Homo sapiens: one gene and its partners. The protein of the gene in region 5 interacts with the protein of the main gene of each other region in a pairwise test. Each region holds a gene or a part of one and is shown on either strand. Other genes may lie near its edges. The genes, in order: DRD5, GNE, TAPBPL, AGXT, NOTCH2NLC, SPG7 and VASN.

Evidence for each region.
Region 1: the proteins of NOTCH2NLC (region 5) and DRD5 interact in binary tests that used the Homo sapiens proteins (3 or more experiments, as listed by UniProt).
Region 2: the proteins of NOTCH2NLC (region 5) and GNE interact in binary tests that used the Homo sapiens proteins (3 or more experiments, as listed by UniProt).
Region 3: the proteins of NOTCH2NLC (region 5) and TAPBPL interact in binary tests that used the Homo sapiens proteins (3 or more experiments, as listed by UniProt).
Region 4: the proteins of NOTCH2NLC (region 5) and AGXT interact in binary tests that used the Homo sapiens proteins (3 or more experiments, as listed by UniProt).
Region 6: the proteins of NOTCH2NLC (region 5) and SPG7 interact in binary tests that used the Homo sapiens proteins (3 or more experiments, as listed by UniProt).
Region 7: the proteins of NOTCH2NLC (region 5) and VASN interact in binary tests that used the Homo sapiens proteins (3 or more experiments, as listed by UniProt).

What each region holds. Positions count from the first base shown.
Region 1 is NC_000004.12:9,779,911-9,784,623, reverse strand, and holds DRD5 (D(1B) dopamine receptor), read right to left. Parts: upstream 2,991-4,713; 5' UTR 2,595-2,990; coding exon 1,161-2,594; 3' UTR 615-1,160; downstream 1-614. Other genes in the region: SLC2A9 (solute carrier family 2, facilitated glucose transporter member 9), read left to right, coding at 4,559-4,713. UniProt on the Homo sapiens protein: Dopamine receptor whose activity is mediated by G proteins which activate adenylyl cyclase.
Region 2 is NC_000009.12:36,241,138-36,245,408, forward strand, and holds part of GNE (bifunctional UDP-N-acetylglucosamine 2-epimerase/N-acetylmannosamine kinase), read right to left. Parts: intron 1-4,271. UniProt on the Homo sapiens protein: Bifunctional enzyme that possesses both UDP-N-acetylglucosamine 2-epimerase and N-acetylmannosamine kinase activities, and serves as the initiator of the biosynthetic pathway leading to the production of N-acetylneuraminic acid (NeuAc), a critical precursor in the synthesis of sialic acids.
Region 3 is NC_000012.12:6,458,356-6,462,626, reverse strand, and holds the end of TAPBPL (tapasin-related protein isoform 1 precursor), read right to left. Parts: intron 3,983-4,271; coding exon 3,680-3,982; intron 1,773-3,679; coding exon 1,689-1,772; intron 1,504-1,688; exon of another isoform or gene 1,237-1,503; intron 594-1,236; coding exon 478-593; 3' UTR 311-477; downstream 1-310. UniProt on the Homo sapiens protein: Component of the antigen processing and presentation pathway, which binds to MHC class I coupled with beta2-microglobulin/B2M. Association between TAPBPR and MHC class I occurs in the absence of a functional peptide-loading complex (PLC).
Region 4 is NC_000002.12:240,874,553-240,878,823, reverse strand, and holds part of AGXT (alanine--glyoxylate aminotransferase), read right to left. Parts: intron 3,716-4,271; coding exon 3,620-3,715; intron 2,890-3,619; coding exon 2,820-2,889; intron 1,288-2,819; coding exon 1,192-1,287; intron 803-1,191; coding exon 674-802; intron 111-673; coding exon 3-110; 3' UTR 1-2. UniProt on the Homo sapiens protein: Peroxisomal aminotransferase that catalyzes the transamination of glyoxylate to glycine and contributes to the glyoxylate detoxification.
Region 5 is NC_000001.11:149,449,104-149,453,374, reverse strand, and holds part of NOTCH2NLC (notch homolog 2 N-terminal-like protein C), read right to left. Parts: intron 1-4,271. UniProt on the Homo sapiens protein: Human-specific protein that promotes neural progenitor proliferation and evolutionary expansion of the brain neocortex by regulating the Notch signaling pathway.
Region 6 is NC_000016.10:89,545,999-89,550,269, forward strand, and holds part of SPG7 (mitochondrial inner membrane m-AAA protease component paraplegin isoform 1 precursor), read left to right. Parts: exon of another isoform or gene 1-178; intron 179-659; coding exon 660-762; intron 763-2,004; coding exon 2,005-2,115; intron 2,116-2,696; coding exon of another isoform or gene 2,697-2,719; exon of another isoform or gene 2,720-2,784; intron 2,785-4,271. UniProt on the Homo sapiens protein: Catalytic component of the m-AAA protease, a protease that plays a key role in proteostasis of inner mitochondrial membrane proteins, and which is essential for axonal and neuron development.
Region 7 is NC_000016.10:4,377,958-4,382,228, reverse strand, and holds part of VASN (vasorin precursor), read right to left. Parts: intron 1,361-4,271; 5' UTR 1,352-1,360; coding exon 1-1,351. UniProt on the Homo sapiens protein: May act as an inhibitor of TGF-beta signaling.

The DNA of each region.
Region 1 (4,713 bases), on a different chromosome or scaffold from region 5:
GACCTACAGATTTTCCAATTTCAAGTTCATTCACATTTCATCTCTGGCTTCTACATTTTACTTAAAAAGCATTTCCCTATTTGCTATTGTCCACTAAGGAAAATGCCTATTTAAAAATAGAGTTTCTTTTTTAAAGCATCTTGATTCACACATTTCAAAGCTCTTCAGAAAACACGATTTCTCAAAAGCCATGTCATTCTAAAACATGCTACAGTTGTCAGATGGAGAAAGATTCAAGATATTATTCTACATGATCTTTTCAATGAACTGATCGCATCTGTCTAGGAATAAGGAGAGTTGTCTTATGTTACTTCAAAAAAGATTCCATATGAGAAAAAAAACATCTGGTCTTGAGAAGATCTAATGCCATGCCATTGAAGCCAGGTTTCAGCACAGACCCAACATGGGTATAAGTAATAAAAAGAAACCTGAGAAAACAGAAGCTCCTCAAGGTCCTTTGCCCTGGTGTATCTTTAAGGCCAAACTGTAAAGAGATTAAGCATGTACTTCCAGACCCAGCAAATATCTTCTTTGCATTTTAAGGATGCACTCATCGTTTCTTCAGAAGCAATCCTGAAACCCAATGTAGCAAAGCAAAGATAGTCACCCCATAATACAAATAATCTGTGTTTATTAGACACCAGAATAAATCAGGGATACTTCTTAAGCTATGGTAAAGAGGCCCCCACCAGCACAGAGAGAAGAAATGACATAAGCACAAAGCCACGGGAATCCAGACCCAGGAAAGCTGTGCTCCCACCACATCACTGCACACACACACAACCTGCTGTTTAAAAATCAATTCAAACACAAACAAGTGACTGAACAAGCCATTTGTTTAAAAAGGGAGGGGAGAGCATATTTTTTAAGGACCAAGTATCATTTTTTTTTTTAAGGACCCAGCACCATACTCTCTTCTCTCATAGGATCGTTGGTCCATCTCTGGTAGGCTGGGTACATTTGACTGAGTTTATTGCAACTGCTTCTGCCAATTCTTCGAACTACCAATCAATGGGGTGAGGTTTCTAAGCACACGAGCTACTACACAGAAACACATGATAAAGGGAGCAGCACTGGAAAGGCATGTATTTGCGTGTGTGTGCGTGCTTGTCAATGTCTGTGCGGTTATGCAGATCCATGAGGGGGTTTCTTAATGCAGTTTAATGGAATCCATTCGGGGTGAAAGGTGTTATTTTGTCTAAAGAAATCTCCCCCTCGCAGTCCAGCTCCCAGACAGACTCAGCAACAGGGTCACCATCTGGGGACGTCTGATAGATCTGGAACATGCGATCGAAAGGACCCTCCTCCTCGTCGTTGTCCACCTCCCGGTTGCCGGGGGTAACGGCGTTGGGCATCATGTGGATGTAGGCAGCTGCGATTTCCTTGTGGAAGACGATGTCTTGGTTGTAGGAGATGAGCTCATTGCTGATGTTCACCGTCTCCACCGGCGTGCGGGAGCAGAAGTGGCTGCACCCCAGCAGCTGGGCAAACACCTTCTGAAAGTCGGCGTTGAAGGCATAGATGACGGGGTTGAGTGAGGAGTTAGCCCAGCCGAACCAGACGAAGACGTCGAAGGTGGTCTCACTGACGCAGGGGAAGCCGGCCGGAGGGCCTTCGGGGTGTCCACTGCAGAAAGGGACCATGCAGTTAAGGATGAAGAAGGGCAGCCAGCAACACACGAAGACCCCCATGATCACCGACAGGGTCTTGAGAACCTTGGTCTCCTTCTTGATGGAAGCGCGCAGGCTGGTGTCGGGCGCGCAGGCTGCGCTGCTCCGGCAGCTCTGCGCGTGCTCTGCGGCCCTCTCCAGGGAGGAAATCCTGCGGATCTGCACCTGGGCGATGCGGTAGATGCGCGTGTAGGTCACGATCATGATGGCAACGGGGATGTAGAAGCTGATGAGCGAGGAAGAGATGGCGTAGGTTCGATTCAGGCTGGAGTCACAGTTCTCTGCATTCACGTCGGGCTCCCAAAAGTCCTCCTCCCAGGGCGTCCAGTTGGCCAGGTTGTTTGGCAGGTCCAGCCCGCCCCAAGAGGCCGCCTGGTCCCTGTGCCAGTTGAGCTGGACCGGAATGAAGGAGATGAGGATGGACAAGGTCCATGCCAGGCCGACCATGACCAAGGCCATGCGCTGAGTCATCTTGCGCTTGTAGCGGAAGGGCCTGGAGATGGCCCAGTAGCGGTCCACGCTGATGACGCACAGGTTCAGGATGGAGGCAGTGGAGCACATGATGTCGAAGGCCACCCAGACGTCGCAGAACGCTCCAAAGGGCCAGTAACCGGCCACCTCGGCGACTGCCTTCCAGGGCATGACCAGCAGCGCCACGAAAAGGTCTGACACGGCCAGAGACACGATGAAGACGTTGGTCATGTTGGCGCGCAGGTGGCGGCTCCGCACGATGGCTGCGCACACCAGCACGTTGCCCAGCAGGGTCCAGATGATGAGTAGGGTCAGCAGGCAGGCGGTGACCACCTGTGAGGGCCCCAGTGGCGGTGCCCCCGCCGAGCCCCCCACGGCGTTCCCCTGCGCCAGCTGCTGGTATAGAGCGAACTGCCCCGGGTACGCGGTGCCGTTGCTGCCTGGCGGCAGCATTTCGGGCTGGACTGCAGGGGCGGTCTGTGCGCGGTCCCAACTTCAGCCCTGCGACCCCCAGGCAGCCCCATCGGGCACCCCGAGGATGCGCCCCCTCAGCCAAGGGACCCTCGAGCCCCAGAGGGCGCTCACCATGAGCTGCGCCGGGCTGCGGAGCGCGCGGGGACTTCTCTTGCCTCCTGAAGCGCCTCTGGCTCCATGGCCGTGGTGCGCCCCTCCAGTCTCCGCGATGGGGACAGGAAGCGGCTGGTGCTCGCTGACAGCCAGGGCTGTTCTCGGGAGTCTGTAGCGCGCCGGACGGCAGCGGCAGCGGCTGTGTCTGGTTCGGAGCGAGAGAAGAGAGCAAGCCGCCACTGAGGGGCTGGGGCAGGCAGTCGCGGGCGCCAGGCTGGCACTGAGGCGCTGCCGCGGTCCCTGGCCGCTCCCAGGCCCCGCGTCCCGCCCCCCGAGCCTCCGCGCTCGACTCCCGCCCCACCTGTGCCTTGGCGCCCTCGCTCACCGCCCTCAGCGCGCCAGAGTGTAGGGGCGATCCCGCAGGTCCGAGGGGCGCCCCAGCGCCAGACCCTAGTCCCCGGGCCGGGGAAAATTCTCCCCGGGAAAACCGAAGGGTGCTTGGCGCATCCCTGGAGCCTTAGCCCTGGCCACGCTTGGGGAACAAGAGGTGGGGTAAGGATGAGGACGCGAGGGCTTCCGGAGGGGGAAAGAGCATTTGAAGGGTAAGCGGGGCAGCCTTGGATTACCCACAGACCCGAGTCCCAATCCGGACTTTATTCCTGGCTCTGCGACTTTAAGGGCCCTACATAACTTTACCCGGCCTTGGTTTCCTTCTCCACAGCGTGGGATAATGATTCCTACTCCTGGGACAGTGTCAGAACTCATGGAAGCCGTCTAGGATGAGGTGTCCAGTAGACAGTGTCTCCTAGGAACAGGCTCCCGCTTCCCCCAGCCCCTCTCTCAACACCCTGAGGCTGGGGCTTCAGCTGACCTCTTGGGAGATTGTCCTTTTCCCCACCACCGCCCCCAGTCCTTGAACGATTTTTCCTTTGGGGAATAATTCGGAATGAACTCAGAAGACAAGAGGAGGAAGAGAGCCCCCCACCCCCATAGAGTTGGAGGCCTCTTCTTTGCAGGGCACTTTTACAGCCTTTCTCTTTTTCAACCTTGAGAGGGATGGATAAATAGCTCAGTGTTTAACAGAAAAGGAACTGACGGGGCCCAAAACCCAAACTGAAAAAAAAGAATGATGGAAAACAATAAAGAGGGAAAACAGTGTTCCTGAGCTCTGAGTGCACCTCCCAGCTGACAAGTTGCATTTGTGAAGTGTTTCGGCCTCTACTGGCGTTAAGCTCAGCTGAAGGCAGCTGGGAGAGAAAGGGATGTGACAGCAGCCAGCTGCATAGCTCCGGCTGCGACCTGCTGGCCCAGACACCTGCAGCATGGTGAGGTCTAGAAACAGACTGGACTTTCTCCTCCCTTCCTAGTCTCCCCCTCCACCAAACGCACCTGTACCCTGGACCAACATCTGCAAGTGGCCCACCTTCTCAGACTTAAGCTGCTCAGCCTACACAGTCCCTTCCCCCAACCTCCTTCCCCCTCAGTGCTTTTTGCCGCTGGAGAGGGCAAGACCATCTGTCCAGGTGCCTAAACCTGAAACTGAAGGGCCATCCTCACCTCTGGTCTCTCCTCATCTTCTGGGAGCTGGACCACTCCTCTGGCCATGGACATCCCTGTCCAGAATTGTGCCTCCTCCATCCTGTTTGATGGTGGCACTTTCCTGGCCTCCAGTCTCTGCCCTGACCCTCTGTCTTCCCAGCAGGCAGTGATCTTTCCTGAATGTGACTATGTTCATGTCACTCCCCTGATGAAACACCGTCAGTGTGTTTCATGATCAGCTCCCTGTGGCCCCTGTTCCTGGCCAGGCATGCAAGGTCTTTTCCTCATATTGCCCTTGTCTTTGTCCACAGCTCCTGCTTCTTCTCCTTTCACTACTCCGAATACAGCCTGGATTCAAGCTGCCGCCACCACCACCGCCACCAAAAAAGAACACCCATTGTAAACGGTCATGTGGTATTTCCTCAACCTGGAATGACCTTCCCCTATCTTCTTCTCCTGGAGAACA
Region 2 (4,271 bases), on a different chromosome or scaffold from region 5:
CAGAGTCTCACTCTGTCGCCCAGGTTGGAGTGCAGTGGCACGATCTTGGCTCACTACAACCTCCACCTTGTGGGTTCAAGCAATTCTCCTGCCTCAGCCTCCTGAGTAGCTGGGACTACAGGCCTATGCCACTACGCCTAGCTAATCTTTGTATTTTTTAGTAGAGATGGGGTTTCACCATGTTGGCCAGGATGGTCTCTATCTCCTGACCTTGTGATCTGCCCGCCTCGGCCTCCCAAAGTGCTGGGATTACAGGCGCGAGCCACTGTGCCCAGCAACAGTTTCTTTATGAAAGAAGGATGGCAAAGTAGCAAAAACTAGAAGTCTTTTTAGACCAGGGAAAAGTAAAACGCAAGACAATGAGCCAGAGCAACTCATCCCTGGCAAGAATACATTTCATACAAAGTTTGCACCTGCTTCTCCACCTGGCACTTCTGATATTATTACCAGTCTTTGTATCTATCCATAATTCAGCAGCCTCAGCCCTTTCATAAATCCTTTCCATAAAGGCATTTTGTTTTCTGTTGTAAAGTCCTATATTTACTGTGATATGCCTTTCATTATTAGGAATTTAACATGCCTTTTTAACATTGCTAATTTTAAAATTAAGATTGTTATATATTAACACTCTGGTTACAAAGCTGCAATGTTATATATGGCCTACCCAACCCTATCTTCCTGTAAGCAGAGTGATAGCATGAGAAGTTCCATATTAAGGCCAGGTGCGGTAGCTCATGCCTATAATCCCAGCAGTTTGGAGGGCTGAGGAGGGCGGATCACCTGAGGTCAGGAGTTCGAGACGAACTTGGCGAACATGATGAAGCCCCATCTCTACTAAAAATACAAAAATTAGCCAGGTGTGGTGGTGTGCGCCTGTAGTCCCAGCTACTCAGGAGGCTGAGGCAGGAGTATTGCTTAAACCTGGGAGGCAGAGGTTGCAGTGAGTCGAGACTGCGCTAATGCACTCCAGCCTAGGTGACAGAACTCCAGCCTTGGCAACAGAGCAAGACTCTGTCTCAAAAAAAAGAAAAAAAAAAAGAAGTTGCATATCAAGAAGCAGGAACAGGTTTTATATAAAATGTATTACTGCCCAGTGGTGGATGGCTCTGCCTCATTGTCTTGAGTTTTCTTTTTCACTGGTTTAAAGACCAAAAAAAAAAAAAGCAATTTTAGCTGTTCTGTTGTCCTTCTTTCCATAAAGAACTGCTTAAATTGTCCCAAATAGGACTTTAAGCCCTACAAGTACAATTCAATTTTGCTACATTCTGCTTTCTAATGGTTATTTGCTGTTTTTTGTTTTGAGACGGAGTCTCGCTCTGTTGCCAGATTGGAGTGCAGTGGCGCGATCTCGGCTCACTGCAGCCTCCGCCTCCTGGGTTTCATGCAATTCTTCTGCCTCAGCCTCCCAAGTACCTGGGACTACAGGTGTGCGCCACCATGCTCAGCTAATTTTTGTATTTTTAGTAGAGATGGGGTTTCACCATGTTGGCCAGGATGGTCTCAATCTCTTGACCTCATGATCTGCCCGCCGTGGCCTCCCAAAGTGCTGGGATTACAGGTGTGAGCCACCGCATCTGGCCTGGGTTTTATGCTTGTTTTTTTTTTTTTTTTTTTTTTTGAGATGGAGTCTCGCTTCTTCACCCAGGCTGGAGTGTGGAGTGCAGTGGTGCAATCTCGGCTCACAGCAACCTCCCTGGGTTCAAGCAATTCTCCTGCCTCAGCCTCCTGAGTAGCTGGGAGTACAGGCATGTGCCAGCACACCTGGCTAATTTTTGTATTTTTACTAGAAATGGGGTTTCACCATGTTGGCCAGGCTGGTCTCCAACTCCTGACCTCAAGTGATCCACCTGCCTGGGCCTCCCAAAGTGCTAGGGTCACAGGCATGAGCCACTGGCACCTGGCCAAAACTAGTGTTTTGTTTTTTTGAGACAGGGTCTTATTCTGTCACCGAGGCTGGAGTGCAGTGGCACAATCATGGCTCACTTCAGTCTTGAACTCCCAGACTCAAGCAATCCTCCCACTTCAGCCTCCGGAGTAGCTGGGACTACAGGCACACACCATCACACCCGGCTGATTTTTGTATTTTTTGTAAAGACAGAGTTTCACCACGTTGCCCAGGCTGTTCTCAAACCCCTAGGCTCAAGTGATCTGCCCACTTTGGCCTCTCAAAGTACAGAGATTACAGGCATGTGCCACCACATCTGGCACATTATTATTTTCTATTCATTACAAGTTTTTCAGTGATACAAGTTTTCCAGAATACCTAGAGAGCTAATGGTATAATTAGAACAGAATCCAAGAGTGTTTCATCGGAAGCATACTAAAAGGAGAGACTGAAGAGACAGAAGGTTGTTCCACCAGCATTATCTAGACGATCCCTTGATAATTACAAATCTGTCCAAGCATAAGAAATATTTAGAATGGGCCAGGTGCGGTGGCTCATGCCTATAAACCCAGCAGTTTGGGAGGCCGAGGCAGGAGGATTGCTTGAGCCTAGGAATTCATGACTAGCCTGGGCAAAATAGTGAGACCCCATCTCTACAAAAAAATTTTAAAAATTAGCTGGGCATGGTGGTACATGCCTGTAGTCCCAGCTACTCAGGAGGCTGAGGTGGTAGGATCACTTGAGCCCAGGAGGACAAGACTGCACCACTGCACTCCAGACTGAACAACAGAAATATGTAGAATGGAGTACGTTATATAGCAGGAAAGCCCAATTCCTTTCCTGATGTAATGTAATCTAGATTAAAAATATACAAAATCTCTTTGCTTATTCAATTTTCTTTTTCTTTCTGTGTTTTTTTTTTGTTATTGTTTTTTGTTTTTTTTTGTTTTGTTTTGTTTGAGACAGGGTCTTACTCTGTCACCCAGGCTAGAGTGCAGCAGTGTAATCACAGATCACTGTAGCCTCAACTACTCAGGCTCAAGTGACCCTCCCATCCCAGCCTCCCAGGTAACTAGGACTACATGCACACAGCACCACGCCCAGCTAATTTTCTTATTTTTTGTAGAGACAGCGTCTTGCTATGTTGCCCAGGCTGGCCTTGTAACTCCTAGGCTCAAGCAATACTCCCACTTCAGCCTCCCAAAGTGCTGGGATTACAGGGTGAGCCACCATACCTGACCCAACCAAATCAATTTTCTGTTCATTAATTTTATAATTCAATAGATCTGCCTCTTAGAAATGAAAGGTCCTAAATAGATTATTAGTCCTAATTTGTCCCCTAGGTAGTACTCTTACTATAAATTAACCAACTGACATTCTGTTTGTAAACTTGGATTTTTTTACCTCTGATTAGCAAAAGATAATTTCTAGGAAGCTAGAGCACTGAACAATAAAAATTTTGGAACATAGGGCTTATTTACAAAGATATACTCTAAGGCTACAACTATGACTTTTGCTTTTTAATAATCATCATAATCCCTTATATTAATAAGTACTTATGGCTTACTGCTTCCAACATTCATAATCTGAGTATTCCAACAATTCTATAAGAAAAGCATTAAAAATAAAAATGAGCCAGGCGCGGTGGCTCATGCCTGTAATCTCAGCACTTTGGGAGGCCGAGGTGGGCGGATTATGAGGTCAGGAGTTTGAGACCAGCCTGACCAACATAGTGAAACCCCGTCTCTACTAAAAATACAAAAAAAAATTAGCCAGGTGTGGTGGTGTGCGCCTGTAACCCCAGCTACTCAGGAGGCTGAGGCAGGAGAATCGCTTGAACCCGGGAAGTGGAGGTTGCAGTGAGCCGAGACTGAGCCACTGCACTACAGGCTAGGCAACAGAGTAAGACTCCATCTCAAAAAAAAAAAAAAAATGACCATTTTGCCAATGTAGTAAAAAATTTCAGAAAATCAGGCCAGGCACGGTGGCTCACGCTTGTAATCCCAGCACTTTGGGAGGCTGAGGTGGGCGGATCACCTGAGGTCAGGAGTTCGAGACCAGCCTGGCCAACATGGAAAAACCCTGTCTTTACTAAAAATATGAAATTAGCCAGGCATAGTAATCCCAGCCACTCGGGAGGTTGAGGCAGGAGAATCGCTTGAACCTGGGAGGTGGAGGTTGCAGTGAGCCGAGATTGTGCCACTGCACTCCAACCTGGATGACAGAGCAAGACTCTGTCTCAAAAAACAAAAAAAAAATTCAGAAAATCAAACATAAAAACACCCATAATCCCACACCAGAAATAAATATAATAAATGACTTGGTGTACATACTTCCTAACCATTCCATTATTACAGTTTTTAGTAAAATGGCAGATTACAGCTGG
Region 3 (4,271 bases), on a different chromosome or scaffold from region 5:
TGAGGCTCACCAGGTGTAGTTGGCCTTGTTCTTTGGGGGTATTAGCCCTTCTACTTTCTTTCTCACCCACCCTGTACCCTCTTCTGTGTGTCTCTGCTATCCCCCTTTCCTCCCACCACCCATGTGCATGAGCAAATGTGCAACAAAACCCTGGGACTTTGCAGTCAAATGAAGCTGAGCTTCCCACATCCCGTTCTTCGGTTTGCCATGAGACGATGTGGGGTTTCCACTGTGTGTCTGTCATCACCTCTTTGTCTTTTTTTCCTAACCCTGATCTCATACTTGTATAGAGTAATAACAACAGTTGTACTTCCACCAAAGGCATGTGGCATATTTACCAATGTCATGTATTCTGAACAAAGGCAAAAAATACAAATTCCTACCATTAAACTGGCTTGGTTGTTGTTTGGGTTGGAGTAGCTGTGGGGGCTTGGGGAAGGGTGTCGTTTCTTTCTAGTAGTCTCATGTCGCTTTAGGTCAGCTGGGCTGGCTTACACGCGCTGTGCGGTCTTCATGGAGATGGGAGCTCTGTGTGTCAGCACAGGAAGTGGTCTCCCAGCGTTCAGCCTGAAGCAGCCCAAGTCCTGTAGGTGCTGGTAAGAGGAAGTGAAGACAGGAAGTTGCGTGGGCATCTCACACTGGCAAACAAGCACAGGTTCCCTCAGGCCTCTTCCATCTGCCTCCTGTGCTCCTTCCTAGGTCCTTGGCCTGCTTGTCCTGTCCCAGGGGATGTGCCCAGATAAGGCTGTCAGTGAACACCCCCTTACCCCCTTTTCCCCATCATCCTCACGTACAGTTTTGGTATGCTGAGTTCCACCGTATTGATTAGGCACATTTTAGAAACGAATAAAAAGGAGAAGTCTCTCCTTGCAGCTGAGGGAGTGAGGCATTTGCAGGTATCCTGAACCTCCCAGCAGTCACCCGAGGGAGCAGAACCCTAATTGCAGCTGAGGTGCAACTGAGATGGAGCCACGGGGGTGCCTCTGAGGGCCTTTGTTTCATACTTAAACACTTTGCAAGTTGGAGCCGCTAGGCTTGGTGACAGGGCTCAGTTGGGACCAGTGTGGAGAAAGACAGGAAAGTGGAAAAGCTTGGTCGCAGCAGACACAAGGGCCTTTTATTTTGACAGAGCTGAGTTTGGGAGGGGTAGCCCAGCCCCAACCCATGCCTCATTGTCCCTCACTTGTTCCTTCTCCATTTCCTCCAGCTTTGTTTTCCTACCGTCACACCACCAACCTGGCTCTTTGGTCTTATCCTCCATCTGGACATTCTGCCTTCTTCTTGTCCCCTCACTTCTTCCTGTTCTCTGCCTTGGTGCATGAGCCCAGGGTGCACAGTGAAGGAAGGCAGAGGCCTCTGCAGAGCCAGGCCCAGTGCCCCATGAGCTGGTGCCACCTTCATGTATTTTTAGCTCTGTGACTTGACTTAGAGTCCTTCTGGGAGCACGTGACTACTCTTTCTTTCTACTCTGAGGCAGGAGAGTGACAGACTTTAGTGAGGTAGCTAGGAGAAAACGAGGGAACACGACTGGTTTCATTTTCATTTAGGGCAAACTCAAAAGCAGGAGGCTGTGATGGGTGGGTGGCTGGAGCTTGGGGCATCTGGGCTTCCACCCTGGTCTGGGCGGGGGGGTGGTTAGAGTGGGTGAGGTGGGCCAGGGCCAGAGCCAAGGGCACCCAGGCTCTTACCTTGCCGTCTCTGAAGCCCCAGGAACATCAGTGCAAGAAGGAAGAGACTGCTGGCAAAGATGACTCCCAAGGCTGTTCTCCGCTCTGTAGGTGAGAGCAACGTGGGCGGGGATCATCGTGCGCAGGAATCATGAGCTGAGCCCTCACCTGCAGTGTCCACCCCAGGGAGGAGGAGCTAAGGATTGTGTGTGTGAGTCCCTGGTTGAGGAGCCTGGAACAAGGCACTCAGCAGCATTTGTTCTTATTCAAGGTTGCTGGATACTTGTGAGTTACTCCACACAGAATTCTCTACCTCTTCCCACCTAAGGACAAGGTTTTAAAAATTGCTTTGCAAGTGAGATTTAGGTGGGTTTATTTGTTAGCACTTAACTTGCCTGGACACAGTGGCTCATGCCTGTAATCCCAGAACTTTGGGAGGCTGAGGTAGGTGGATCACCTGAGGTCAGGAGTTCGAGACCAGCCTGGGCAACATGGTGAAACCCTGTCTGTACAAAAAATACAAAAAATTAACTGGGCATGTTGGTGTGCGCCTGTGGTCCCAGGTACTTGGGAGGCTGAGGTGGGAGAATCACTTGAGCCTGGGAGGCAGAGTTTGCAGTGAGCTGAGATCGTGCCACTGCACTCCAGCCTGGGCGACAGAGTGAGACCCTATCTCAAAACAAAACAAAATAAAACAAAGCAAAACAAAAAACCACCAGTTAACTGGGATTTTGTAAATAGTTGGGGAATGATGTGAGCTGAAGTGAAACCTCAGTTTTGGGGAAGTTCACAGTCTAATGAGCAACCAAATAATGCCCAGTGCTCCTGGATGTTTCCACTTCAAGTTGCGGGTTCTTTCCTGTCCCTTTCCTGCTTAAAACCTCTCGACAGGCAGGGTGCGGTGGCTCATATCTGTAATCCCAGCACTTTGGGAAGCCGAGGCGGACAGATCACCTGAGGTCAGGAGTTTGAGACCAGCCTGGCCATCATGGCGAAACCCCATCTCTACTAAAAACGCAAAATTAGCCAGGCGTGGTGGTGCGCGCCTGTAATCCCAGCTACTTGGGAGGCTGAGGCAAGAGGATGGCTTGAACCCAGGATATGGAGGTTGCAGTGAGCTGAGATCATACCACTGCACTCCAGCCTGGGGAACAGAGCAAGATTCTGTATCGAAAAAAAGTAAAATAAAATAAAATAAATAAATAAATAAATAAATAAATAAATAAATAAATAAAACCTTTCAACAGCATGCTATGGCTCTCAGGAAGTTCCAGCTTGAAGGCCCAGTGAGATCTACAGGGTTTAATTAAGCCCGTAAGGGGAATCCGGTTGCCTGTTTTTCACATTCTCTCTTTACCATTGATTGATAGGTGACCTTGGGCAAATTCATTGACATCTGCAAGTGCCAGTTTACTCACCTGTAAAATGGGAGTCATGATCCATGAAATCATACATTTAAGTGCTTTCTACACTGCTTGATTCATGTAAATGCTCAATAAATAGAATTACCTCCGAAGCTTCAGAGCCACTTTCCCTTTTTCCCATATACCCTAAGCTCTAGCTGTGCTGAATTACTTGCAATTCTCCAAATTCTCTTTAGGCTGTTTTATGATTTGGCTTTCATATATGCTATTGTTTCTATCTTGAGTGTTCCCTTCCCTCTAAGCTAGTTAACTTGGCTCAAATGCCATCTTCTCTGTCTACTTAGTCTTGTCTCTATTACTGGACTAAGCTCCTGGAGGGCATGATCAGGAATTATTCATCTGTGATCTCCAGCCTTAAGCACATTGCCTGACACCCTGGAGGCTGGAGTATAATGAAGTCTCAGGGGATGTGTGGTAGAAGCTGTGGCAGCTGCCGCCTTGGGAAAATAGTCAGGAGCAGAGGCAGGAGCATGAAGCCAGGGCTGCGAACAAAGTGGATGGGCAGCAGAACAAGGCCATAGATGAGCTGGGGCAGGAGAGCCATGAGCCCTAGTGTGGAGGTGGGGAAAAGGAGGACACTCCCAGTACCTGGTGGGACAACCTGGGTGCTGGCCCCAAGGGGCTCCTCCAGAGAGATGTGTGTGACCTGGCAGGTGTAAGTGGCACCTGCAGAGCCAGGTTCTGCGGTGAGAGAGGAGGAGATGCTGTAGGTGCCTGCCACGCTTTGCCTGAGGCTGGAGAAGGAGGCACCAGAGACTTGGGCTGGGGATCCACCCAGCTCCTCTCGGGTCCACGTCACCACCACATCCAGAGGGTAATAGCCAGCAATGTCGCAGATGAGGGTGGGCAGCAGAGCTTCGTTTGCCAAGCTCAGTCGTACTTTAGGGGAAGCTGGAGAAAGAATGAGGAATAAGATTACACATGGATCTAACTGGGGACAGCGGAGGAGCCTGAAGCCTTTTCTTCCTGCCAAGATGAGAGTAGATTGTGGAGGCTACAGTGTCCCTTGGTGGTGTACCAAGGCGGGGGTGTGTGAGGGGCCCACCTGGATGCAGGCCGTAAGGGGGCAGGGTTACATTTTCCAGAAAACAGATAGTAAAGCCAACTAAAGATTGGCTGGCTTCTTACTGTCATTCTAAGCCAGTTTTTTTTTTTTTTTTAAGATGGTGTCTTGCTCTGT
Region 4 (4,271 bases), on a different chromosome or scaffold from region 5:
GGTCACAGCTTCTTCTTGGGGCAGTGCTGCAGGGCCGCCCTCAGGGCCTCCGTCACGCGGTCCACATTCTCGCGGGTGGCATTGCAGCCCAGCAGGCCGATCCGCAGCACCTGGGGGGCACAGGGCGGGCTGACGTCAGCCTCCCGCCTGGGACCTGCCTGACCCTGACCGACAGCTGGCCAGAGCCAGGATGGGCTCACCTGAGTGAGGACCACCCACCCAGCGTCCATGAGGGGAGTTGACAGCCCTGTGCAGGTCACAGAGGGGGCCCTTGAGCACCCAGGCCAGGGCAGGCTCTCCTCCCTCTGCACCCGCAGCCACACGGGAGGACAGGGTGGTGCAGTGAAGGTCCCTCCCCACTGCCACTCAGAGACACAGCCAGGCCCAGGCGTGGGGCTTCCGGCCTGGTTCCAGGGTCTGGTCAGAGGGAAGGAAGGATGTTCCGAGTGGAATCATAAAGGCTGCACCTGGTGACCTCAGTGGGCTGGGGTGGGAGCAGGGGCGACAGGATACGCTTTACTGGATACCCCTTGGAGAGTGGGCCCTTCTGGACGCTCCTGCAATCTGGGCTTTCGGATGACCCCGGCCTCCCCTGCACCTGGTGCACAGTCCTGCTCAAGGAGGGGTGGCGGGTTTGGTTTCTGCAAAAGGCCCTCGAGGCGCTCCCTCTCACCTTCCCCGTGGAGGGCCCAAGGCCACCCATGATCTCAATGTCGAAGTGGTCTATGACGTAGCTGACGATGTCTCTCCAGTCATAGCCAGCGGGTACAGCCACAGTGGTGACTGTGGGAAGCCGGAGCGCCTGCAGGAGGGGCCTGGCTCAGTGCGTGGGTGAGAGGCCCTGTACGGGCCTTTGTGACAGCTCTTGGCCTGCACCATCTGCCCCAGCTTCAGGTTCCAGAGGAGCCGGGGGAGAAAGGGCCGGGAGAGAGCAGGGACCCCACCCCTTAGGAGGCGGTGGATGGGCACCTTCCCACTGGGAGATCACAGGCCGTCCTGAGATCCCGCATCAGAGGCCGGGAGCTGTGACTTCGTGGCTCCTGCCGAGACTAATCCCTGGCACCGAGGCCACACCACCGGGCAGCCGCCCCCTCCTTCTCAGGAGCCAGTGTCCCTCTTGAGGGGGCTGGGCAAGAGCCCCTCATCCTTCCCCATGGGTGCAGGGCTGCCCAATGCCAGGGGCCTCCTTACCGGGTCCTTCACGAAGAGCTGCAGCCCCAGTGCCTGCAGGCGCCCATGCAGATACGCCGCGGCCTCGCGGTGCTGGCGCCAGCTGTTCTCCAGGCCCTGTGTGGGAGATGGCGCTGGTGGGCAGTGACATGGGTGGGGTGGGCAGGAAGCCCCGCCCTCTGTGGTGCGGGAGGAAGAACCTGACTCTGCAGGCCTTGGTGCAGGGGAGCCCCTGGAGCCCCCAGTTTGACTTTGCCTGGGGCAGGGCCTGGGACTACCCCAGGGCAGAAGGAAACATCTGGGTCTGGGAGAGACAGAGGAGGGTTCAGAGAGACAGAGGGGAGGTCTGCCTGTGGCCCCTGGGGGAGAAGAGTGGAGAGTGCCTTGCAGGGGGAGGGGACTGGGCAAGGAGGGGAAGGGCTGTTGGGCTACACAGGGCTGGAGTGGATCAGGGCCAGGGCTCAGGGTGCTGGCTCCCAGGCCCCCTCTCCTCTCAGGGCCAGCTCCCCCGACCTGGCATCCTCCGCAGCACTGCTCCTGCCTCAGCTCTGGACAGGTGAGGGGTGGTCTCTCCAGCCCTGGGCCCCTCAGTGCCATTACCTCTGGTCACGGGTCCTCCCGGCCTCCAGCCACCAGCTCTCATGGCCACCCCAGGTGGGTCCCCGGAGCAGCAGCTGCTCTCTACTCTGGCCCTGGCCCGTCTTCTCTGCGCATGTGCCCCTGCAATCTGCACTCTGCCAGGTCCCTGTGCCTCTGCCCTTGACTGTGCCCTGCTGTCTGGTCCTGTTCTCTTCCTTCTCTGCCCAGCTCACACCCCCCACCCACCTTTACGACCCTAGAGCCTTTCCCTGTGTGAGCGCCTGACCCCTCGCCTTCCCCCGCGGGTGCGGGTGGCATTTAGCTTACAGGGGCACCCTGGCACTAACCCAGCCCTAGGCAGTGGCTTTATGAGTGGACCCAGGAGGACAAACGTGGCAGGCACGGCCTTGCAACCTCATGGGAAGCTGGCTGCAGCCCGGGGATCCTTCCTGGACTCTGGACTGGTGGCTGGCAATGGGCCCTGTGGGACACAGGACCCAGATGAAAGTAGGTGGGACTTCCTGTCTCGTGGCCTGCAGAGCTGCTGGGCCTGAGGCCACTCTCAGCCGCCTGTGTCCTGAGAGTGTGGATGTTGCAGTGTCCTGAGAGTGTGGATGTTGCAGTGGCCAAATCAACCCCTGGTCACACCCAAGTGCTCATGCTCAGCTCTTGCCCTGCCATAGGAGCTGGACAAGCCTGCAGGAACTGCCAACCCTCACTTTACATCCACGCCCACCTATCTGTGGGCACATCTCTGGCCCCTTCGGCCTCCCCTTCTCCCAGCCCACCCACTCACTGGGCCTCACTTACTGCTTCACACAGCAATGGAAGGGTTGGGAGCATCCACACCTGCCCCATTGCTGCATCTGTCCCTGGGGCTGTATCCCCCTGGCCCTGCCCGCAGCCAGTGTACCCGGGGCCCTGTCCTCTCTCCCCCACCCCCACTGAGGGCCTCTCTCTGGCAGGCTCCCTTTTCTCTGTGCACCAGGGATGGTTCCTTCTCTGCAGGCCGCGCCCTCGACAATCCAGCCAGTGGCCCTGTCTCCTCCTGTGGAGTGCAGCCCATGCACCTGTTCCGCAATGAGGGCCAGGCTCTCTCTCAGGCTGTACAGGCTGATGACGGGGATTGTGTGATGGTACCTGGAAGACACGAGGGGGCTTGGTCCAGCACCATGGGCAGGGTTGGGGGCAGATGGGGCATTAGCTCTGTCTGCCCCAGCCCCAACAGCACAGGCTCTCTGACCACAGGCCGGTATCCTCCGCAGAGGAGTCCTGTCCGGGTTCAGAACTTTGGACCGGGAAGGCAGCTTCGTCTGCCAGGGAGAGCATGGCTTGTGTAGGGCCCAGCCAGGAGGCAGTGGGTGGCTGCAGGAGCAGAGACACGTGCCACCACCTCCCTGCGGAGCCCCTCAGTCCCAGCGTGCCTGCGAAGCCGGCACTGGCCCTCTGTGCCCACTGGGCTAGGGCACCATTCCTGGCGCCTTGTTCCTGTGTGTAACATAAGGGGCCTTGGGTTTATGGCCAAGGTCGTCTTTTCAGAAGGGGTAAGCTGAGGCCCAGGAGTGGGGAGATGTGGCAGGGCCAGGTCCAAAGTGCCCGAGGGTGTGCTGGGACCTCTGGGGGGACAGTGTTTGTGGAAGCGGCAGTGGGGGCCATGACCCTGCCCAGAGCCTCGGGCCAGTCGAGGAATGGGGGAACCCAGGGTGGGGCATTTGACTGCCTGATGCAGGCGGATTCTGGGGCTCTAGTTGGGGTTCTTGAGGCATGAAGGTGGGGGGCTTGGAGAATCCCTGAGTGCAGTGAGAGGCCAGCGCCCCACCTCTCAGCCATGCCCAGCGCCCTCCACCTTCCCATCCCTGCCAGGCCTCACATCCTGGGCTGGTCGTCACAGCCCCAGAAGTTGGCCAGCCACTTGATGTCCAGGTAGAAGGAGAAGGGCTTCGTCTTGCGGGAGTACATCTTCTTTCTGGGGAGAAAGAAGCAGGCTGAGCACCAGCCTCTCAGTTTGGGCTGAAGGCCAGGGCAGTCTCGCTGGCTGTCCTGTTTCACGGGAGTGAGACGGGGTGGGGCCCCCAGGAGGGCCCGCCCCAGCTGCATTTGTGCTCAGGGGCCAGAGTGGGACCGGGTGGGTCGTGGGTCCCTCAGCTGTCCAGTCCCGCTGGCCCTTGGGCCCAGCTGTGTGACCCTGCCATGGGGGCACCAAGGCCAGCTCCCTCCACTCTGTGTGCCCCTTTCTCTCCCCCAGCCCCTCCTACAGGGTCAGCCTTCATTTCTCACATCACCCAAAGGTGACTGCTTTCGGGCCCCAGGGGACACTGGCCAGGCTTGAAACTTTAAATGTGTCCGTCTCTACAACTCCAGATGGAGGGGCCAGCCCCGGCCTCTCCCCAGGCTCCTGACTCACACCCAGCCGCTTCCTTCACCCTCCCGTGTGGTCCAGCTGGCATCTCAGACCTCCCACGTCCAACACCGAATTCCTGACTTCTCCCCGAAGTCCTCTCTGTTCTGGGGAACGGCACCTC
Region 5 (4,271 bases):
CAAAAATTAGCCAGGGTGGTGGTGCACGCTTGTAATCCCAGCTACTCGGGAGGCTGAGGCATGAGAATTGCTTGAACCCGGGAGGCGGAGGTTGCAGTGAGCCGACGAGATTGTGCCACTACACTCCAGCCTGGGCAACAGAGTGAGATTCCATCTCAAAAAAAAAAGTTTTGCCAAGTGAAAACATCTTTTCTCTCTTCTTTGTGCTTATTGAGGAAAATACAATGCCCCATCCAAATCACAGCTTGATTTGAGAATAGTTTCTTGTGTTGGTTTTTTGAAGTGGAGGAGCAAAAAGTGCCAATGTAGCATAGCTAAAATTAACTCTGAGATATATTATTAAAAGCATTTGCAGCTTATTCAAGAAATGTGTTATGAATGTTAAAAACTGCAACACAATTCTCACTCACAGTGCAGCCCTCTGGGCATTATTAGATGACTCTTCATTCTCCCATATGGGAATTATGCACCTTCTAAATAATGGCAAATTTTTAAACGTGGGTGGGCTTTGCTCAGCTTTGCTCCTGAACTATTACACCACCCTAACACTATCATGTGGCATATGCTAAGAGAATGCAAAGTCATTTAAATGGTAGCATCATAAACATATAATGGAAATATAAGGTTCCCAGGAAAACAAAAATGAAGCAAAATGGAAGTTTCTAAAGCTAAACAGATGTATTTCTGAATTATTTGTTTCTACAGTTTAATTCACATTGTTGCTCCCTATCAAGTATGGAAAAATAAGTTTTAACCTAAGATATATTTAAGAAATCAGTAAAACCAGAGATTGACAAAGTACAGTTTGCAAGTCTAATTTGGACCACTGCCTGTTTTTGTTTGGCCTGTGAATAGTTTTTTACATTTTTAAATGATTAGAAAAAAAGAACAAAAGAAGGATATTTTCTGACATTTCAAAATTATATACAATTCAAATTTCAGTGTCCATAAATAGTCTTACCGGAACACAGCCATGCTCATTCATTTATAGATTGTCTATGGCTGATTTTCCACTACAACAACAGAGTCAAGTAGCTGTAATGAGACCACAAAGCCTGCAAAAATAATTACTCTCTGGCACTTTACAGAAAAAGTTTGCCAACTTCTGAGTAGAGAACATATGAAGGCTAATTCTATAAATACCATCCAATATGCTTATTAATAATGATCGGTTTCTGATAGGAAATCAACCTTATTAGTTTCCACAAAGAATATTAAACTTATAATCGTTCATTCACACAACAATTAGTAAATGCCTATTATGTGCCAGGCATTTTTCCAGTGCTAGAAAAATTCTTACACTCTTGGAGTTTACATTCTAATAGCGGAAGACGAAAACAAAATTACTAAGTAAAAGATGCACAATAGATGGAGTTAAGTGCTGTGAAAAAAAATTAAACAGGAAGGAATGGAGCTGGGGATGAGGGTGTGGGGTGAGCAAAGAGAAGTATCTCAGTTTAGAATAGGAAAATCAGAGAAGACCTTCACTGACAATACTTGAGTTGAGACCTAAATAAGGTGAGAGTAATCATGCAGGTATCTTAGGAAAACACATTCATGAGAAAGGGAACAGCAAATGCAAAGGCCATAACACAGAGAGCAGCCCTAGCGTGTTTGAGAAACAGCAAGAATATCTGGAGCAGCAGAAAATAGATGAGAGCTGTAACTGGGATGTGGATCAATTGGGGCCTTTAAGCCACTGTAAAGAAAGACTTAGGGTTTTCCTCTAAATGGGATAATACTTACATATGAGGTACAACAGACTTACTCTCCTAAAGCCCGTGTACAGAACCACATATTTGCTTTACGTGAAACTAGACCTACTGTATTAATAAAGTTTGATTTCTATTTAAAATGTTTTAGAGGGCTGGACATCAGCTTAGTTCTTTACTTTTACCTTAGAAGATATACAAGTCTCTTTTAACCCACACTTTCATGAGGTCCCATTTCCCTTTCCAAATTATTGTTTCACAGCTAACCTTCTATGACTGTAGCCTAATTTCAGATATTTCTCTTTCTTTTCCATCTACTTCTTACTTATCCCTCTGCAACAAAACTTTAATTCTAATTATTGCTTAGAAACTGTTTTCTAAAAACAATGACTTTCCTCTAGTCAAGTTCAGTGGTCTCATCTGAAACTTCATAAGGAAATTCTCTCTCCTATAGGGAGAATTGCTAACCACTCCATGTACCGTTTTAATCATTTTACCTTGGCTTCTATGACTCCCTCTGTCTAACTCAAAACCCAGTGAAGTCTTAGTCTGGATTGCTGATTTCTCCTTCTTCCCCATCTATTATGGCCACCCTAATGTTTAAGTCTGGACTGCACTGCTCTTTCTCTCAAATGCATTTGTTACTGTTGTTGTTCACTTGGTTTTAAACAACTTCCTTCCTGTAACTGACTCCAAAATACACTGTTCCAGTCCCATATGTTCAGTTTTCTAGAAGTCATCTCTCTATCCTAATATGTGCTGCCACTATTTGAAACTAAACATTTGTAAAAGGAGATCATCTTCCCAAGAAACTTTAATTATTCAATTTTTCTAAGGCTTCCACACACAATTTAAAGTAACTTCATCTCTTTAAGTTGTATATAATTTATTACCACATTCTGACAAGACTTGTTAACTGAATTCCTATAATACTTATCATTCGTGTTCACAGTTTCCTTTTTGATACAAATTCTGATCATCTTAAAAGCCTCAGGCCAGACATCATCTTGTTGCTGGCTTTTCCCCCATTTCCAGCCATCCTTGGAAAAACAGAACCTTCAGATTCAAGAAATTTAATTTCTATCCAATTAAGTAATCATTTCTAAAATATTTCTAAAAGATGATCACCAGCCTCTGCTTGAATACAAGCATGTAGCATGGTGCCGGATAAATCTTGAGAATTTAATAAATGCTTGGAGTTATTATTGTTCTGCTCTTAAGAGTACAGACTCTGGAACCAGACCACCTGGATTTCAATCCCAACTCCACCATTTACTCAATGTGTAATCTTGGGCAAGGTACTAAACTTCCCTGTTGTAAAAGAGATGTAATAACAGTGCCTACTTCATAGGATTTTTAAATAAGGGTAAAGCACTTAGAACACTATCCAGCACATAGTAAACACTATGCATTTGTTAAGTGAAATTACTGGCTGACTACTTCAACAAAAGAACAGTCTTCAATGTGGTGGATTCCACTGTGAGAAAGCTCTTTCTTAATTCTTCAAATTCTGCCTCCCTTCCTAGGTATATACCCGAGATAACTGAAAACATATGCCCACATAATAAAAATGTTCATAGCAGCATTATTCATAATAGCTAAAAAGTAGAAACAACCCAAATGCCTATAAGCTGATGAACAGATAAATAAAATGTGGTATATCCATAAATGAAATATGTGGCCATGAAAAGGAATGACATTCTGATACATGCTACAACATGGATGAACCTTGAAAACATGCTAAGTGAAAGAAGCCACACACAAAAGGCCACATATTATATAATTCCATTTATATGAAATGTCCAGAATATGCAAATCCGTAGAGATAAAAAGTAGATTAGTGTTGCTAGGAGCTGTAAAGAAAGGGAAATAGACAGTGACTACTAAGCAGTAGAGAATTTCTTTCAGGGTGATAAAAATGTTTTGAAATTAGATAATGGTGGTGGTCTCATAACTCTGGAAATACTAAAGTCTACTAAATTAAACACTTTAAAAGGGTAAATTTTATGATACATAAATTATGTCTTAATTTTGAAAAGAACAAACTTTGTCTCTCTACAATTTCCAGGTTATCTCTACCCTCTAGAACAAAAAAGAACAAGCCTTCTGCTTCTCTTACACGTAGCCCTTCAAGAATCTGAAGATAGTTATGTGGGCCTTTTGTTTTCTTTTTTCCAGGATTCAATGGTTTGGCGTATTCCTCAGTATAGGGTTATTTCCAGGCTTCTTCACCTTTTTAGTGGTGCTTCTATGCTTAATAGTAGTAATAATAATCAGAATGACCAAAATTTTCTGCCTCCCTTCCCAGGTATATACCCGAAGTAACTGAAAACATATTTTCTAAGTACTTAACTATGTATTGTATATTTGCTAAGCATTTGATAGCTATTGTCTCTTGTATTACTCGCTCCAGTGCCGTATTATAATCTCCATTTTATATATGAGGAACTCGAAGCTTAGAAAGATTAAGATTTTACAGCTAGGCCAGGTGCGGTGGCTCACACCAGTAATCTCAGCACTTTGGGAGGCCGAGGCAGGCAGATCACCAGGTCAGGAGAT
Region 6 (4,271 bases), on a different chromosome or scaffold from region 5:
AATTTTTAACAGAGTCTCGCTGTGTTGCCAAGGCTGGTGTCAAACCCCTGGCCTCAAGTGATCCCCACCCACCTCTCCTTCCAAGAGCGTTCTCTTTTTTTTTTTTTTGAGACAGTCTCACTCTATCCCCCAGGCTGGAGTGCAGCGGCGCGATCTCGGCTCACTGCAACCACCATCTCCCAGGTTCAAGTGATTGTCCCGCCTCAGCCTCCCGAGTAGCTGGGATTACAGGCACCCGCCGTCTTGCCTGGCTAATTTTTGTATTTTAGTAGGGATGGGGTTTCACCGTGTTGGCCAGACTGCCCACTTCAGCCTCCCAAAGTGCTAGGATTACAGGTGTGAGCCACCGGGCCCGGCCATCCAACAGTGTTCTGTTCGTGTTTAAAATGCTGCTTGTGGCCAGGCATGGTGGCTCACGCCTGTAACCCCAGCACTTTGGGAGGCCGAGGCAGGTGGATCACTTGAAGCCAGGAGTTCGAGACCAGCCTAGCCAACTTTGCGAAACCCCGTCTCTACTAAAAATACAAAACTCAGGCATGATGGCACACACTTGTAATCCCAGCTACTTGGGGACCCCCCCCCCCCACAGACAAACATGCCGCACCTGTGGCAGTAACTAGGCTTGAGCCCGACTGTCTTTCCTCCCCTGGTTCTGGCAGGAGAGGCGGGAGATTTTTGAGCAGCACCTGAAGAGCCTGAAGCTGACCCAGTCCAGCACCTTTTACTCCCAGCGTCTGGCAGAGCTGACACCAGGATTCAGTGGTACGTTCTCAACCCGCAGCCTGGGCAGCGTCACGTCCTGAGGGCAGGTGGTGTCACCTGCGCAAACAGCATCGAGGCCTCCTCTGTGGGGTGGGCGCTGCTCCTTCTCTGGGGGCCTCTGCTCAGTACAAGCCTGGGAGGGAGCTGATGTGTATGTGGGGCAGCAGGAGGTCCAGACGGCACCCGCACTCCGTCCTCCGCCCCGGGGTGGAAAAGCAGACGGTGGTTCCCGGTCTGTGTTGTTTCCAGAGATAGTGGAGTTATGTTGCTTCCACACAGTGACCAGTCATGCCGGCGTTTCCCGTCAGACCCAGAGTCAGACCACGCAGTCCCGGCAAAGCCGCCTCCCTCTGACCCTCACGGTCTCTGTCAAGTTGTAGAAATAGAAATCATACCTCAAGATGCTTTTCCTGCTGTGTGGTTCACATTTTAAAAGTTAATGTCAACAAACCTCCCTTTTATTATGAGATGAATTTGCCCTTTGATTATTCGTTAGGGTCTTTCACTAGAATTTTGTGGTTACTAGAGAGCCTTTAATTTCTTTGCCATCAATGCTCATGAGCTGTTAGGTGGAATCAGCCACAAGATGGGGTGTGGAACTAACTGCCCTTGGGAGGAGAGACGGGCGTCAGGGCGGATGGAGCCTGGCGGTTCTGTGTCTCGTCTGTGGAATGGCCTCAGTGGAACACGGTGCAAGTGCCTGCCGCTCTCCCCACCCCTGCTCCTGGCGCCGGCGCCTGCCGCTCTCCCCAGCTCTGCTCCTGGCGCCAGCTCCCCGTGCCTCTCTCCCAGACGCTCTCACCAGCACTCTTGGTTCTTGGTCTCTTTTCCCTCTTTGTTCTTCCTTTTATTTATTTACTTATTTATTTTGAGACAGAGTCCTACTCTGTCGCCCAGACTGGAGTGCAGTGGCGTGATCTTGGCTCCCCGCAGCCTCCGCCTCCTGGGTTCAACCGATTTTCCTGCCTCAGCCTCCTGAGTAGCTGGGATTACAGGCGCTCACCACCACGCCCGGCTAATTTTTGTATTTTTAGTAGCAATAGGGTTTCACCCTGTTGGCCAGGCTGGTCTCAAACTCCTGACCTCAGGTGATCTGCCCACCTCAGCCTCCCAAAGTGCTGGGATTACAGGGGTGAGCCACCATGCCCGGCCATCTTTGTTCTCCCTTGAGGGCCCCTTCCTCCTCTTAAGCCCTGATAGCAGAAACCCACCCACCCACACCGTGGCTGTTTGTGTTGACAGGGGCTGACATCGCCAACATCTGCAATGAGGCTGCGCTGCACGCGGCGCGGGAGGGACACACTTCCGTGCACACTCTCAACTTCGAGTACGCCGTGGAGCGCGTCCTCGCAGGTACAGGGGGCGCGCCCTGGGTGAAGGCCCTCCTTAGCAGGGCTTGAACCCCAGAAATACCCAGGCAGGTATTGAGAGGTGAGGTGGATGGAACCATCACACAGGAAGGAACACACGTTGCGTTTCAGTTCTGCGTAACTCATGTCTTTATGATACCTTGTACTTTTCCTTAGTTTAAAATATCACAGATTTACCTAAGAGTAGACGCTCGTCCAACAGAAATAAAAAATGCCTTGCCAAAGAAAGTGAAAAAATAAAAATAAAAAATGCCCCCCAAAAATAAAAATAATAAAAACTAAAAATGTCTTGCCAGCCTGGGTGTGGTGGGCTCAGCCTAGCCCCAGCCTCATGGGGGCTGAGCTCCAGCCGCTGACTGTGGGCCGGAGGGCTGCTGCCGCCCGTGGCTGTGGAGGGACAGCCGTGCTTTCAGCGCAGCAGGGGCTCTGCGGAGAGGTGTGGATCTGCAGCACCACCTCTGGTGAAACTCATGGTCCCGACCGTCAGTAGGAACGGGAGATGAGTTTTGGTGACGGGTGACCGGTGGGCTGACCGCCTCTGACTGCCGTTCCGTGGCTGCTCAGTGTGGGGTCTGCGACGTCTGTGAGGAGAGAGGACCAAACTGGGAATCGGAGCTGCTGGAGGTTTCCATAGCTATGATGGCAACACCCAGACGTGATCAGTCATCTCATGGAATGGAGTTCAGACCCGCACTGTCAGTGTGAGACAGGTTGAACGTTTGAAAAGGGAAGTGGTTCTTGCCCCAGGTGTTTGAGGAGCACGAGCCTCCTTTGCGAGCTATCCCTGCGAGAACCGAGTTCCTCACCCTCAATTCGAGTGAATTCCTAGCACGAACACGCCTCTTGCAGGTCCCCAGGGCTTCAGCTTGGGAAAGCAGTGGGTTCCTGCAGAGGAGTGGGGCAGCTGCTGTGCCAGACACTGCAAAACACACCTGGCTTCTCTCCGACAGCCCTGCGGGTCGAGAGGACTGGCGCTGCCTGTGTCTTACTGAAATTTATTTTCGTGTAACCATTTACTTTTATGTGGAAATCGAAAAGCTTTTGATAATAGTAGCAAAGCAGGAAGGACTGAGTGGGAACCACAAGCCAGTTGAAAGAAAATACATGACGTACTTGAGTGCTCAGGACCACGAGCTGATTCAAGTTGTACAGAATGGACACTTACAGATGTGTGGAAAATCTGAGACAGGAAATGAAGCCTCACCAGTAAGCTGAACAGGGGAGATTTAATGCAAACATTTGTCCCTGGCTGGGCACTGTGGCTCATGCCTGTAATCCCAGCACTTTGGGGGCTGAGGCAGGAGGGTTGCTTGAGGCCAGGAGTTTGAGACCAGCCTGGGCAATACAGCAAGACCCCATCTCTTAAAAGAAAAGAATAAAGAGTATTAGCCAGGCATGGTGGTGGAGCACACCTCTGGTCTCAGCTACTCAGGAGGCTGCAGCAGGAGGATTGCTTGAACCTGGGAGGTTGAAGCAACAGTGAGCCGTGATCGCACCACTGCCCTCCAGCCTGGGCAACAGAGTGAGACCCTGTCACTGACAGAAAAAAAGCCTTGTCCCTGAGGCAAAAAGCTTCTGAAGGGGTGAGTAGAAGCCATAAGGATCCAGAAAGTGATGGGGATGGGAGCTGCGCCTCCAGGTCTGAGGGGAGAGGGAAAGTAAGCAGGAGGCCCGTAACTCAGAGGAGGCCTCTGCCCATCCTGCCAGGGAGAAAGTCAAAAGCTGCTGTTCTGTGACCCTTGCCCCGACCCTGTGGCACCCCCCCAACCATGGGGCAGGAGGAGACACTCCTCAGAGGGTTGCACTTGTTCCTAAAAGCAGCAGGAGCTATTTCGATGATTGCAACATTTATAAAAGAAGAAATCACGACCTCCTTCAACAGCCCTTTGACCTGAAGAGTGTCGTTTTGAGTTGGGGTGTCCAGAGCCGCAGCTGCAGCTCCAAGAGGCAGATGTGCAGAGAGAGGCTTGCTTTGACCACACGGGGCAGGAGCAGGGCCCAGCCAGGGAGAGGCCGGGGTCTCAGCTCACCCCCCCGTCATTCTTTTTTGTTTGTTTTTTGAGACGGAGTCTTGCTCTGTCGCCCAGCCTGGAGTGCAGTGGCATGATCTTGCCCTACTGTAACCTCCGTCTCTCAGGT
Region 7 (4,271 bases), on a different chromosome or scaffold from region 5:
GCCGTGTCCCCTGCCCCATCTGGCTCTCACAGTACAGGCCCGTGAAGCCTTCGGGGCACAAGCACGCCAGGTGGTGCCGTGTCCCCAGGTGGCATGTGCCCCCATTGAGGCAGGTGGACGGTGGGCAGTCCTGGGGCTGGGGGACAGGCCCTACAGTCGGTGGGGCAGTGGAGGGCGGGCTGGGGGCCTCAGTGGCCGGCTCTGTGGGGCTAAGCCAGGTAGGAGCCAAGCTAGAAGACAAGGCTGTGGGCTCCCGCACCACGGGCCTCGTGGTGGGCACTGTGGCTGTGGTGGTGGTGGCTGGGCAGCCAAAGTCGGCGTAGTCAAGCTCCAGGAGCAGCCGGCCAGCGTTCTTGGGCGGGAAGTGGCAGCGCGTCTCCTCAGGGCTGGCCAGTGTGACGTGGCTCTCGCGCACCCAGGGGCCAAACCAGCTCAGGGGGCACACGCAGTTGAAGGGGTTGCGGGCAGCTGCCAGCAGCCGCAGGCGGGGGAAGAGGCCCGAGAGGTCGCCAGGCAGGGCCTGCAGGCTTAGGTTGCTCACATCCAGCTCCTGCAGGGCAGCCAGGCCGGCCAGGTCCTCGGGCCGCAGCTGGGCAATGCGGGTGTTGCCGGCCAGCCGCAGGCGCGTCAGGCCCCGGAGGCCTCGGATCACAGGTGGCACTCGCTCCAGCTGGTTGTCGGACACATCCAGGTCGTGGAGGTTGCGCAAGCGGCTGAAGAGCCCCTCGTCCAGCTGCTGCAGCCCCAGACCAGCCAGCCGCAGCGCCTCCACGTTGGCAGTGTCCAGGATGCCGGGCTCCAGGGCCAGGAGGCTGTTGTGGCTGAGGTCCAGCAGCAGCAGGCGGGGCAGGCGCAGCGGGGGCAGTGCCCGCAGCTCGTTGTCCTGCAGCTTGAGCTCCAGGAGGCGGTCGAGCGTGTCGAAGGCACCAGGCTGGATGTGGCGGATGCGGTTCTTGCCCAGGTAGAGGCGCTCGAGGCGCCGCAGGCCACGGAAGGTCTCATTGGTGATTTCATGCAGCCTGTTGGCTGTCAGGTCCAGGTTGCTGAGGTTGGCGAGTGGCTGGAAGACCCCGCTGGGCAGGCTGGCGATCTGGTTCTGTGACAGGTCCAGGAGCTGCAGGCCCGGCAGGCCGGCAAAGCTGCCTGCGTCGAGCATGGTGATGCCGTTCTCAAAGACGTACAGCCCCACCGTGTCGGGTGGCACGTCTCGGGGCACCGTGGTCCCCTGGCGGGCAGTGCAGAAGACTGTCTGTGGCTGGCTGCACTGGCAGCCGGATGGGCAGCCCTGCACCCCAGGCCCCAGGGCCAGTAGCAGGAGCAGCGGCAGCAGCAGAGGGACCCTGGAGCACATCTTCTGTCCCTGGGAGCAGAGAGGAGGCAGAGACAGAAGACTGTGAGTCAGGGGCCTAGAAGGCAGACACGCCAGGAAGAGCCAGAGGGAATTCACTGCTTCTGCCCCCAAATGCAAGAGAACCCAATGGTTATGAGTCAGGTCGCCAGTGCCCCGACCCAGGTTCTGTCCCAGCCCCGTCACTCCCTCACTGTGTGACCTTGTCAATGCACACAGAGGTCATCATGGGGCATGACATCCACTGAACGTGCAGTGACCATGCACTGCTTCCTCCTGAACCCCAGGCCCTCCTGCCTCTGCCTAGGTAGGTTCCCCCATCCCCTGCCTCAGAGATGGACCAGGAAGGAGAGAATGGTGGGACTTGGAGCGGCAGCTCCTCCCTACAGGGTCTGGAAGAGGGGGCAGGCAGGCAGCTGGGTGGGTGTGTAAGCAGAGAAGCTGGCTGCCTTGGCCGCCGGCTCCTGCTGCCACGCTCCGTGTCCCGCCCTCCTTGGAGGAGGGAATGCAGCGGGAAGACTTCACATGGAAACTATGGGATCCATGTTTTTCCACTTGGGCAGTCAGACCTGCTTAGGCTGGGGGCTGCGGGCCGCCAGGAAGTGGCCGGCGGGAAGGTTCCTGGAGGAGGGGCAGAGGCCACAGGCATTGGCAGGTGTCCCCTGTGAGGGAGGGAGGCGGGGAGCTGAGGCTGGTGACAGAGCTGGAGCTGGGGGGCCACAGGGCTCAGGTGGGGACACTGGCTACATGGCAGCCCCAGGGGCAGTGCCAGGCCTGGGAAAACTCTGCAGAGTCATTCATCTACTTTTTTTTTTTTTTTTTTGAGACGGAGTCTTGCTCTGTCACCCAAGCTGGAGTGCAGTGGCGAGATCTCGGCTCACTGCAACCTCTGCCTCCCAGGTTCAAGCAATTCTCCTGCCTCAGCCTCCCATGTAGCTGGGACTACAGGTGCCAGCCACCATGCATGGCTAATTTTTGTATTTTTTTTTTTTTTTTTTTTAGTAGAGACAGGGTTTCACCATGTTGGTCAGGTTGGTCTGGAACTCCTGACCTCAGGTGATCTGCCCGCCTCAGCCTCCAAAAGTGCTGGGATTACAGGCATGAGCCACCGTGCCCGGCTTCGTCTACTGTTTCTTGGGGTCTGCCCTGAGCTGGGCACCAAGAAAGATGAGCAGCAGCCATCCCCTTGGCAGTGATGGTGCAAGTCCTTCCCATGTGCCAGCGAAGTGGGAAGGACGAAGGAACACTAAGTGTTTACCGTCACCTCAGGTAGCCCCCCAGCAGCCACGTCAGGGCAGACAGAAGAAAGCAGGGCTCATGGAGGTGCAGGGACTCGCTGCCATTGCGGTGCCAGCAAGTCCGAGCTAGAGCCCAGGTGTGCAGCAGCCACCTGTGAAGGGTGCGTGCCCTCCAGATGGCCCTGGGGGCGGGGGCTCCCACCAGCCGCTCCAGGCTCCAGATCTTAGCTGCACTGCCCAAGTCAGGCAGGTCTGTGGCTGGCCCCCATCACCTAGACTCCTGGGGAGACCGCTGGGGCCGTCCCCAGGAAGAGCCCTCCCCACTTTGGCACCCCTAGAAGTCCCTGAGCCTCATACGGGGTGCCAGCCCATCCCCAGGAAGCATCCTGCCCAGTGGCGCCTGCAGCTCACACAAGAGCCCTTTGTGCTGGAGTCCGGGCTTCCCCTTCCCCCACACAGGCTGTGCAGGTAGTCCAGGGAACACGACCCCGACCCAGCCTGCACTCCGCCCCAGGCTGGGGGGACCCGTCCATAGGGCTCCCTCTCCCCCAGGTACGTGGGTTCCTGGAATGTGAGGAGGAGCAGGTGGTCCCAGGACAGATTAGACAAGTCACTGGTGAGGTGACCACTGGGGTCTGCGGGTAGCTCGAGGTGAAGGAAGAAGCCCTTGTCCCCGGGGTTGGGCCCACGCAGGCCCTGCCCACGTGTAGTATCGCACTGCCAGAGTCGTCTCCCCTAGGAGCTACCGACCCTGAGCCCCTAGCCAGTTAGCGACAACAAGCACCCTTCAGAGGCCAGCAGGCTAAGCCTCCCCAACCTAGCGGTGTCCCCCTTGCTGTCGTGTGCCCCCTCACCTCCCTAAGGTGAGACCCAGCCTGCCTTTGCCATAGGTGTCTCCAGGCCCACTTAGCTCAGGTCTGCTGAGTGAACAGCCCAGGAGGGCCTGGCACTGAGCACTGGAAGAAGTTAGCACCCCAAACCCCAGGCACGCGTCCCTGGCCCGGCCAGCCCACCCCAGGGGGGCTCGTGTCTGATGACCTAAGGCCCTGGGGCCACACCCCTAGCCTTCTCTTCCCCCATGGGACCCGCTCCACCCTCACTGACTCAGAGGACGGCGGGTGCGGCCTGGCCTCCAGATGTGGGCTGTGAGTGACCCCCACCCACCCCATGTCCATATGGGGGGTGAGGCCACCTCTGCCTGAATTAGCCCTCCCAGCAGGGCCAGACCAGGGTCAGGAAGGATGCAGCCAGGTTCCAGAGTGGGAGGGGATCCTCCACGTGGCCAGCCTGGCCAGCCTGGCCACCACTGTGGCCGCAGCTCCCCTTGGGCCTCGTTTAAGGTCACAGTTAAGAGCGCTCACTCCAGGCAGGCGGCCCTGTGCTCAGAGGTGTCCAAGCTGTGAGGCCGCAGACAGTGACTTTGCTCTCACACCTCGGTTTCTTCATCTGAGTATCTGGGACACTTCAGGGCTGCAGTGGGGGATGCATGTGGAGTCCTCAGCCCTGCAAGGCCAGGTGTGCAGGCCAGCTCTTAGGGGCACGTGCTGGGGGGTGCTCTTCACCCTGCACTGGGGAGGGGGACCAGCCATAGCTCTGGGCTCCGTAATCTGTTGGGTCTTTAATCAGCAAGGTTGTGAAGGGAGAGGGGATGCTGTGGGTCCATCTGGCCACAGGGTGGCTTTCCG